Homo sapiens: one gene and its partner. The protein of the gene in region 2 purifies or fractionates together with the protein of the main gene of each other region. This does not show direct contact. Each region holds a gene or a part of one and is shown on either strand. Other genes may lie near its edges.

Region 1 (3,824 bases), on a different chromosome or scaffold from region 2:
AGAACCGGTGAACCACTTATCCCAGCTGTTTTCCTCCCACTCATCCTATAAAAAGTAAACACACTCCACAGCTGAATGAAAAGCATTATTACTTTGTAATAAAGCCCCAAATGAGTTGATAGCTGTCATTGTTCTAAGTCTTTAAGTTATTAATACAACGACAACTATATAACTCCAGTTACCGGGAGGGAATTCAGTACCTGATCCTCTTCTGATTCACAAAAGATGTGCTGTACTCCAGAGTGGTGCTGAAGAACACACACCAGGAATCAAGATTCCCAGGGGTTTCTAAGCAGATTCGGCCAGACTCCCCCTCGTTACTTCCAAAATGCTACCTCAATAATCAGAAAGCACGATAAAGGATCCAGAAGGGAAGGGACATTGTGGGGAGGAGGATGAGTGTTTAGTGTAGAAAGGAGGATAAGATAGCCAGGGGCTGATCAACGAGAGATCAGCATACAGTAGGATTAGTCAGGGATGCTGGGAGATGGATCTTGAATAACGGTGAAATTTTATTACTGGATTTCAGTAAAGGGTTAAAAGTACAAAAGTTAAACTTTAAAGACTTTAAACAGAATGCTTTTAACGAGAGACAACATACTTTCAAAAAAACTACCTTCTGGTATGATACCTTGAATCTACAGATTTTAAAGTTGCCTAAGGCAAAAAACTAAGTAATTTTTAAAAACCGTCGTATGTTTTCAGGTTTAAAAAAAAAAAAGTCGCATATTTTCATAAGGTCTGAGAAGCTCGCCAAAACCAAACCTAACTGAATTCTCCTTATGTAAACGAAGACTAAGCCACAAGATTCAATGACCCTAAGCAAACACGCTGCAGAAGACCGTTTAAAAATAGAATACACAAAACTACCACAGGAAACAATTCCGGAAGAGGACTGGGTTATCTTCTGGAAACCCAGCTTTCGTGCTTAAAGACAAACTATTCTTCCCCAAACCAAATCTCCCGATCCCTAAACATTAAGTTCTCACATGTCAGTTGCCTATCTGGTGTCTCCACCCCACCCCAATGATAAAAGCTGTAAAATTCTCTTTAAAAACGTCAGGCTGGGACCGGTGTCCGAGGCACGAGGGGTAGGCAGAGGAAGGCGGCGTGGAGGGAAGGAGCCTGGGGGGTCCGGCCTGGCAGCGCCGAAGCGAGAAGGAAGGGGAGTCCCTGGGGCCAAAGGGGGACCCAGGCTTCCCCAGGCAGCCGCGCCGGGCACGCTGCTTTTGTTGAGCTGGGGGGACCACGGCCCAACCTGGGGTCCGGGCCCTCGCCCGCCCAGCGACCCTGGCACTGTGCGCCGTTGAGTCCCCTTGGCGGGCGCCCGTCCCTCCCGCGCCTGGCTCTGACCTCTGCCCACCCCGGTGCTGCCCACCCCGGCCCGGACTCGGCCGCAGAGCGGGGCTTTGGCCTGCCGGGCTCCGAGACTGTGTCCCCACCCGCGTCCCCGGCCGCCCGCGCCCCCGCGCCCGGGCCCTCGGGGGCCGCCTCACCTGCATGCCCGGAGCCCCCGGGTCGACCCCCGTGTCCAGGACTGCGATGAGCACCCCCCGCCCATCATACTCCGGGTAGCGGCAGAGGAAGGAGGCGGCTCCGGTCTCCTTCTTCGGCAGGAGACCGTGAAAAGGGAAGGGCTCCTCAGTCGCAGCGGTGGCCATGGACGCAGGATGGAGGACGAGGAAGCGGCAAACTGCCAGGCTGCGCGCGGACTAGCAGCGCGAGGACACCCGTGCGGCCTCGGGCCGGAGGCGGGGGCGAGGGGCGGGGTCGGCCCGTCTTCCACCAATCCCGGCCTGCCAGGGAGCGGTGGCCAATCACGTGCTGCTACGTAAGCCAACGGCGCCGCTCTCAGGAGCTAGGCCCGAGTATTGCCCGGGCTGCAGTGAAGGGGGAGGAGTCTGAGGACATTACTGGAGGGTTCGGATCTCGAACCTGGGGCCTTGAAGAGGCCCGCGCTTGGGGTTTTTAGGCAACAGCAGGCCTCCAAGCAGAGTCCTGGTGTCCCGGACCGAATCACTCCCCGAGAGACGGGCAAGGAGATGGACCGCCAGCCAGGAATAATGGGAACCCTTCGCTTGGCAAACGATAGTTTCCAAACTTAAGGTTGTGGATGAAACTTTTTGGTGCGGCTGCTGCAGGAGCCCCAGCCCCGGGGTGCTGCTGACCCGAGGCAAGGGAGCCGGCGCACTCACGCTTAGCCGCTAAGGAGTCTGCGGTGTCGGCGAAAGCTCCGGACATGATTTTGGAAGGTCGTAGGTTAAGGGGTGTAGACTTTGGGTTCCCCTGTGTTGTTATGCCCCTTTGATGGGGGTGAGGTGGTGAGGGGGAGCAATAGGGTGGAGACAGGCAATAGTTTCAGTCAACAGGAAGTGGGTTGTTGGTCATTCCGTCGCCTTTGTAGCCAGTAACAAAGCACGAGACTGAAATGGGCCCCTCCTATCCTCTGCTGATCCTTAGCTTCCGGGATTTCTGAAAAACATCTTTTTTTTTCCTCTTACACTGAAGTTTCTGATTGCTCCTTACGGCTGTCCACTCAATTATAGAGCCATAATTTTCAGTTTTCCAGATTCACAGTGCCTGCCGTCAGTTGCTGCAAGCTGCATAGTGGTCCTCTAATGATCTTTATGTCTATGCTCATGCCAGGGTAATCTTAGCCTTTTATTGTGCCGAAGACCCCTTTGGCAATCTGGTGAGGCCTATTTCTCAAGCAGTGTTTTAAAATGCATACAATGAAATAGATAGGATTACCCAGGAAATAAATTATGTTTAAATGCAGTTATCAAAAATACTAAAGGCAATTTTGTTATATAGCAGGAGCTTTACGTGTGTGTGTATAGTTACAGGTGTACTTCTTTTGCATTAAATAACAGGAGCTAGGGCCAAGGCTAATAAACTACCATAACTTCAAAATAGTGAAGAATATAATTATTTGGAGATAGCGGTGAAAACTGCACTACGATGAACTGATTTTTATTGGTGACATAACAGCATAACTACCCTGGTTTTTGCCTACATTCATACTTGATGTGAAAAAAATTAAGAGGTTTGTATCTTTTTTCTACGGAAGTTTTTGAACCCCTTGGATTCTGTCTATGGACACCAAGTTAAGAATACCTGGTATAAAGGAAAGCCTTATGCATGCGGTTTCCAACCCACAGAATTTCAGAGATCCTCCATTAAGTCTCAAAAATTATTCTTATGGCTGTGCAATGGTTTCAGCTGATTCCTTGATCATTTATTCAGTCCATAAGTCTTACACAAGCATGTTCTCTTTAGTGCAGAGGAAAAAGAAAAGTTGAATGTTTTTCTTCTTATTCCCAACTGTTTACATTACCTCTAGAAAAGAATTTCAAATTAACACAGACGAAAACAGAATAACAAACTCGCAGAAGACATTCAGTATAGAGCTTATAGTGATAGAACAGAATGGCTCCCAGTTTCAAGTGAACCATAGTCCAATCACTTCATTTTATAGATGAAGAAACAAAGTTAACTGACTGTCATGGATTACAAAACAGGTTGATGAAAACACGGGATTTGTCTTCTCACAATCTCTCCCCAGTATGTTCTACCACACCATGTGCATGACTTTGCCAGAGTATCACCCAATGAATAAATGGGGAATGAACAGTTTATTATGAAACCTAGGTGGCAGACTTTTTATTAGACTGCCGTAACAATGTTCTTTAGATTTTTCTTTTCCTTTCCTTTTCTTTTTCTTTTTTGACACAGAGTCTCACTCTGTGGCCCAGGCTGGAGTGCAATGTCACAATCTCGGGTAACTGTAACCTCCGCCTCCCGGGTTCAAGCAGTTCTCCTGC
Region 2 (3,600 bases):
CAGCTGGTCTCAAACTCCTGACCTCAGGTGATCCACCCGCCTTGGCCTCCCAAAGTGCTGGGATTACAGGTGTGAGCCACCAGGCTTGGCCATATTTTTCTTAAAATGTATACCTAAACTCATGTGTATGGTAGATTTTACAATTAAAGAAACTAAAAATAATACAAGGTTATTGAAAACAATAATGTAAAAGGATACACATGGTCACAGTTTAAAACTATTCATTCTATGACTCATAAACGCAGTAATTCTTTCCAATAACCAAGTGCTCAGATGGGATGCAAGTTTGCTGGGGCTCTTAAGGAGCTATTAAAAAGAAATGTTTAATCTGTAGGTCATGTCATTTATTTAGAACTGGGGATGCCAAATTCAATAGAAAATACCTCACTAGCTATAAATGGTAGCTACACCCTATAGTCCTGAATACGATAAACCTGGAGCTACTGGCTTTGCTGTTTGTTTTTGCAAATCCTTGACTTTGATTTGACATTCTCTTTGGCTCAACTGTATTCTCTTGACTACCTTGGGAAAATGCCTCACTCAGTTTAACTTGGGCCAAAAGCTTGCGTACTTAACACAGGGATCTGGATCTGGTGTTTAATAGCTGATTAATTTTCTCATCAGCAAAATTGGTGTGATAGTAATAATCCTCTTTATAGGGTAAAAGAAACAATAAAGTCAAGCCCTCTGATGATAGTCATTTTTTTTAGTCACTCAGCTTTACTTTTTATTCTTTTAGAATTTCATTTTGTGACCAGTCCTTGTGAAAATGTAAATCCAAGTGCCCTGCCCTTTCCCTAATTGAGGGTCTGGTGTCATACAACAATATGCTTTTTCCCCAGGATTTAATTCTTGTCATTCATAGATGGAAAATAAAATTGGAGTTTATTTCTCCTAAGCCTTCCTCCCACACCCCTCCCCATAGAAAGACTTGGTTTCTATTGTATTAGAGGCAGGTTCTGTATTCTTTTTGATTCTGTGAGTTTCTTCATGTCTTTCAAATATATTGATTTGTGCTTCTTAGAGTTGGTTTTGATTGCTTACAAAATTAAAGCCTAAGTGATATAAGCACCAAATACAGTCTCTGGCACATAGTAGGCACTTGTAGTGTTTGTTGATATGATTATTTTCACAATTGAAATGTTCCCTGAACAACACACACTAGGGCCTGTCAGTGGGGGTGGCACGAGGGAAAGCATCAGGAAAAATAGCTAACGCATGCTGGGCTTAATATTTAGGTGATGGGTTAATAGGGACAGCAAACCACCATGGCACATGTTTACCTATGTAACAAACCTGCACACCTTGCACATGCACCCTGGAACTAAAATAAAATAAAAATTTTTCCTGGCAGCACTTCTATTAGACTTTCTCTGGTTCTGAGAGTAGAACAAAACACTTAACCTACCAATCACAGGAAGAATGGATACAATTTAGTTTCCAAATGTGATAAATGGATAAACCTGTCTGGACTCACAAGAACTCTGCTAAGGTGCTGAAATCCCATAATGATCACCCATATTCCCGCCAACTGCATTCCTGGTATTGTCACAAGACAGCATCATATAAGCAATACAGAAAATATGTGCTAGAGTACATAAAGTAAATCAAAAGAAGGAGAGAGCATTAAGATAGAAAAGATCTGAGTTGGACTTTGAAGAACTGCTAAGATTGGGATAGGCAGTGAGGATAAGGAGACACTGCAGGCAAGACATTACAGGCAAGGAGTGGAGGGATACCTTGAGCAAAGACATGCAAGGCATGTTTGAGGGCAAAGAATAGTCCTTTGGCCAAAAGAGAAATGTATTATAGAACAATGGTAGTGAATTATGTTTGGAAGGGGTAGATTGGAGTTAATTTAAATACAAAGTTCCAGAAACGGTCAAGTTGCAAATATTTCTATGAAGAGACTCATTTCAATATCATCTATATTATTTCTATCCATTAGCAACGCAGTTTTTAGGGGATGTAATTTGAAACTACAGAACACTAGAGAGTTCTTGGTGACCTTTATAGGGGACATTTTGAGATCCAAACATTCTTAGATAAAATTATCATTTAGTCATGACTTGAAGCCATTCCAAAGAACATGTGTGAGTAGAATATTGAGAGAGTAGCACCTAAAGAAGGAAGATTTCTTAGGCACTGATTGTACAAATTACATATGAATAATTCCATGAGGAAAAAAAGGTTTAAGAACAGCTAATAACTTCCAAAGTTTCTTTTTATTTATTTTTCCATAAAGACTTGCTTTGATGCCAGACACAAAATGTCCACAATAGAAAATCTGACCACAGTATCTAAACAGTTGCTTATCAGCCCTTGGAACTGCCAAAAAAGCTATTAAACTGGTGTTTTCCATGGTGATGGTCTCCACCACCCTGTTAGGAGCCATGACATTGTTCTGTCCTTGTTGGGCAGAGAAGGTGGTGATGCTGGTGGTGGGAGGGTGTAGGTTGAAGGTCTTGGGAGGGTGTTTGTAGAAGAGAAGGTCCGTTGATTTACTGATTAACTACATACACATCTGGGTCAAATTGTTCTCTATTTAGAAGCCTTTGTGATAACCACAGAATCAGAACATATAAAAAGCTCTGCGGGACTGGTGCTGACTGCAACCATGACAAAGCTTATTCTCCTCACAGGTGGGTTTGTAATCAGAGATTGACCCTTCATCTTATCTAGTTTCTTTTTCTCTCACAGGCTCTGAAAATCATGAAGTGGTCTTCATACTACATCCCTATACTTTTCCATTCTTCTTTCATCATTTCAAATTTCAAATGAATCTTGTTATATACAAATCAGTCTGCCTCTTGTTCTCTTAACTTCAACTGACTCTGGTAACATTTCTGCTTTTGTTAATCCCATGGACCTGGTCCTAAAGGAAAAGCATACTTTCTCCTAGTGCTAGTCTTACTCTTTCATCTTTTGTTCAGCCATTCATTTTTCTTTACTCTTCTTCCTACGCCATCTCATTTTAATTGGAATAATGTTTATTTATTTGCTTGTGTCCTTGGACTAGCTTTTCTGGGGAAGAAAATCAGTAGGAACTGAGATAGAGTTATGCAAGTTGTCTTTGTTCTGCTGTTTTCAGAATTATTTCTCTATTTACTCCCCTATTATCCTACTGAGTTGATGATGTACCATAAACATGTTAGAAATTAAATTATTCAAAGAGGTTGATTCAGTAAGTTGTTTAGAGACAAGTCATACCAAGAATTTATTAGTTGCTCTAGAGCTGGGATTTGCAAACTGTTTAAGCTTCAGAACCTTTTCCAAATGAAACCTCAAGCTCAATTTATAAAACAATCAGAGTAGAAGAATTGCTTTGTAGAAGTCAGGGAAAGGTATCTGGAGTCTCACCCCATAGTTCCTAGCTCTTCTCTCCTCATATAAGGCCTCCTGAAAGTCATTCCAAAAAACCACTAAAGGCCAGAAGATACTGAATTCTCTGATTTAGCAGATGCCTTATCTGTTGGAAGGCTGTGTTCTATCACTCAGGTAGGGGAAGAACGAATGGATGTGTCATCATTGACTACAGTGATCAGTTGGTGATTTCAGTAAGTACATCTTCCATAGATAGTAAACTTCGGACTCAGCATT

Evidence for each region. Proteins that work in one complex are often made in the same cells at the same time.
Region 1: the proteins of CHIA (region 2) and TPP2 purify together in Homo sapiens (affinity purification with mass spectrometry; 3 studies listed by BioGRID and IntAct, with this or other methods). This does not show direct contact.

What each region holds. Positions count from the first base shown.
Region 1 is NC_000013.11:102,594,876-102,598,699, reverse strand, and holds the start of TPP2 (tripeptidyl-peptidase 2), read right to left. Parts: upstream 1,715-3,824; 5' UTR 1,662-1,714; coding exon 1,497-1,661; intron 1-1,496. UniProt on the Homo sapiens protein: Cytosolic tripeptidyl-peptidase that releases N-terminal tripeptides from polypeptides and is a component of the proteolytic cascade acting downstream of the 26S proteasome in the ubiquitin-proteasome pathway.
Region 2 is NC_000001.11:111,307,851-111,311,450, forward strand, and holds part of CHIA (acidic mammalian chitinase isoform c precursor), read left to right. Parts: intron 1-2,549; 5' UTR 2,550-2,617; coding exon 2,618-2,642; intron 2,643-3,600.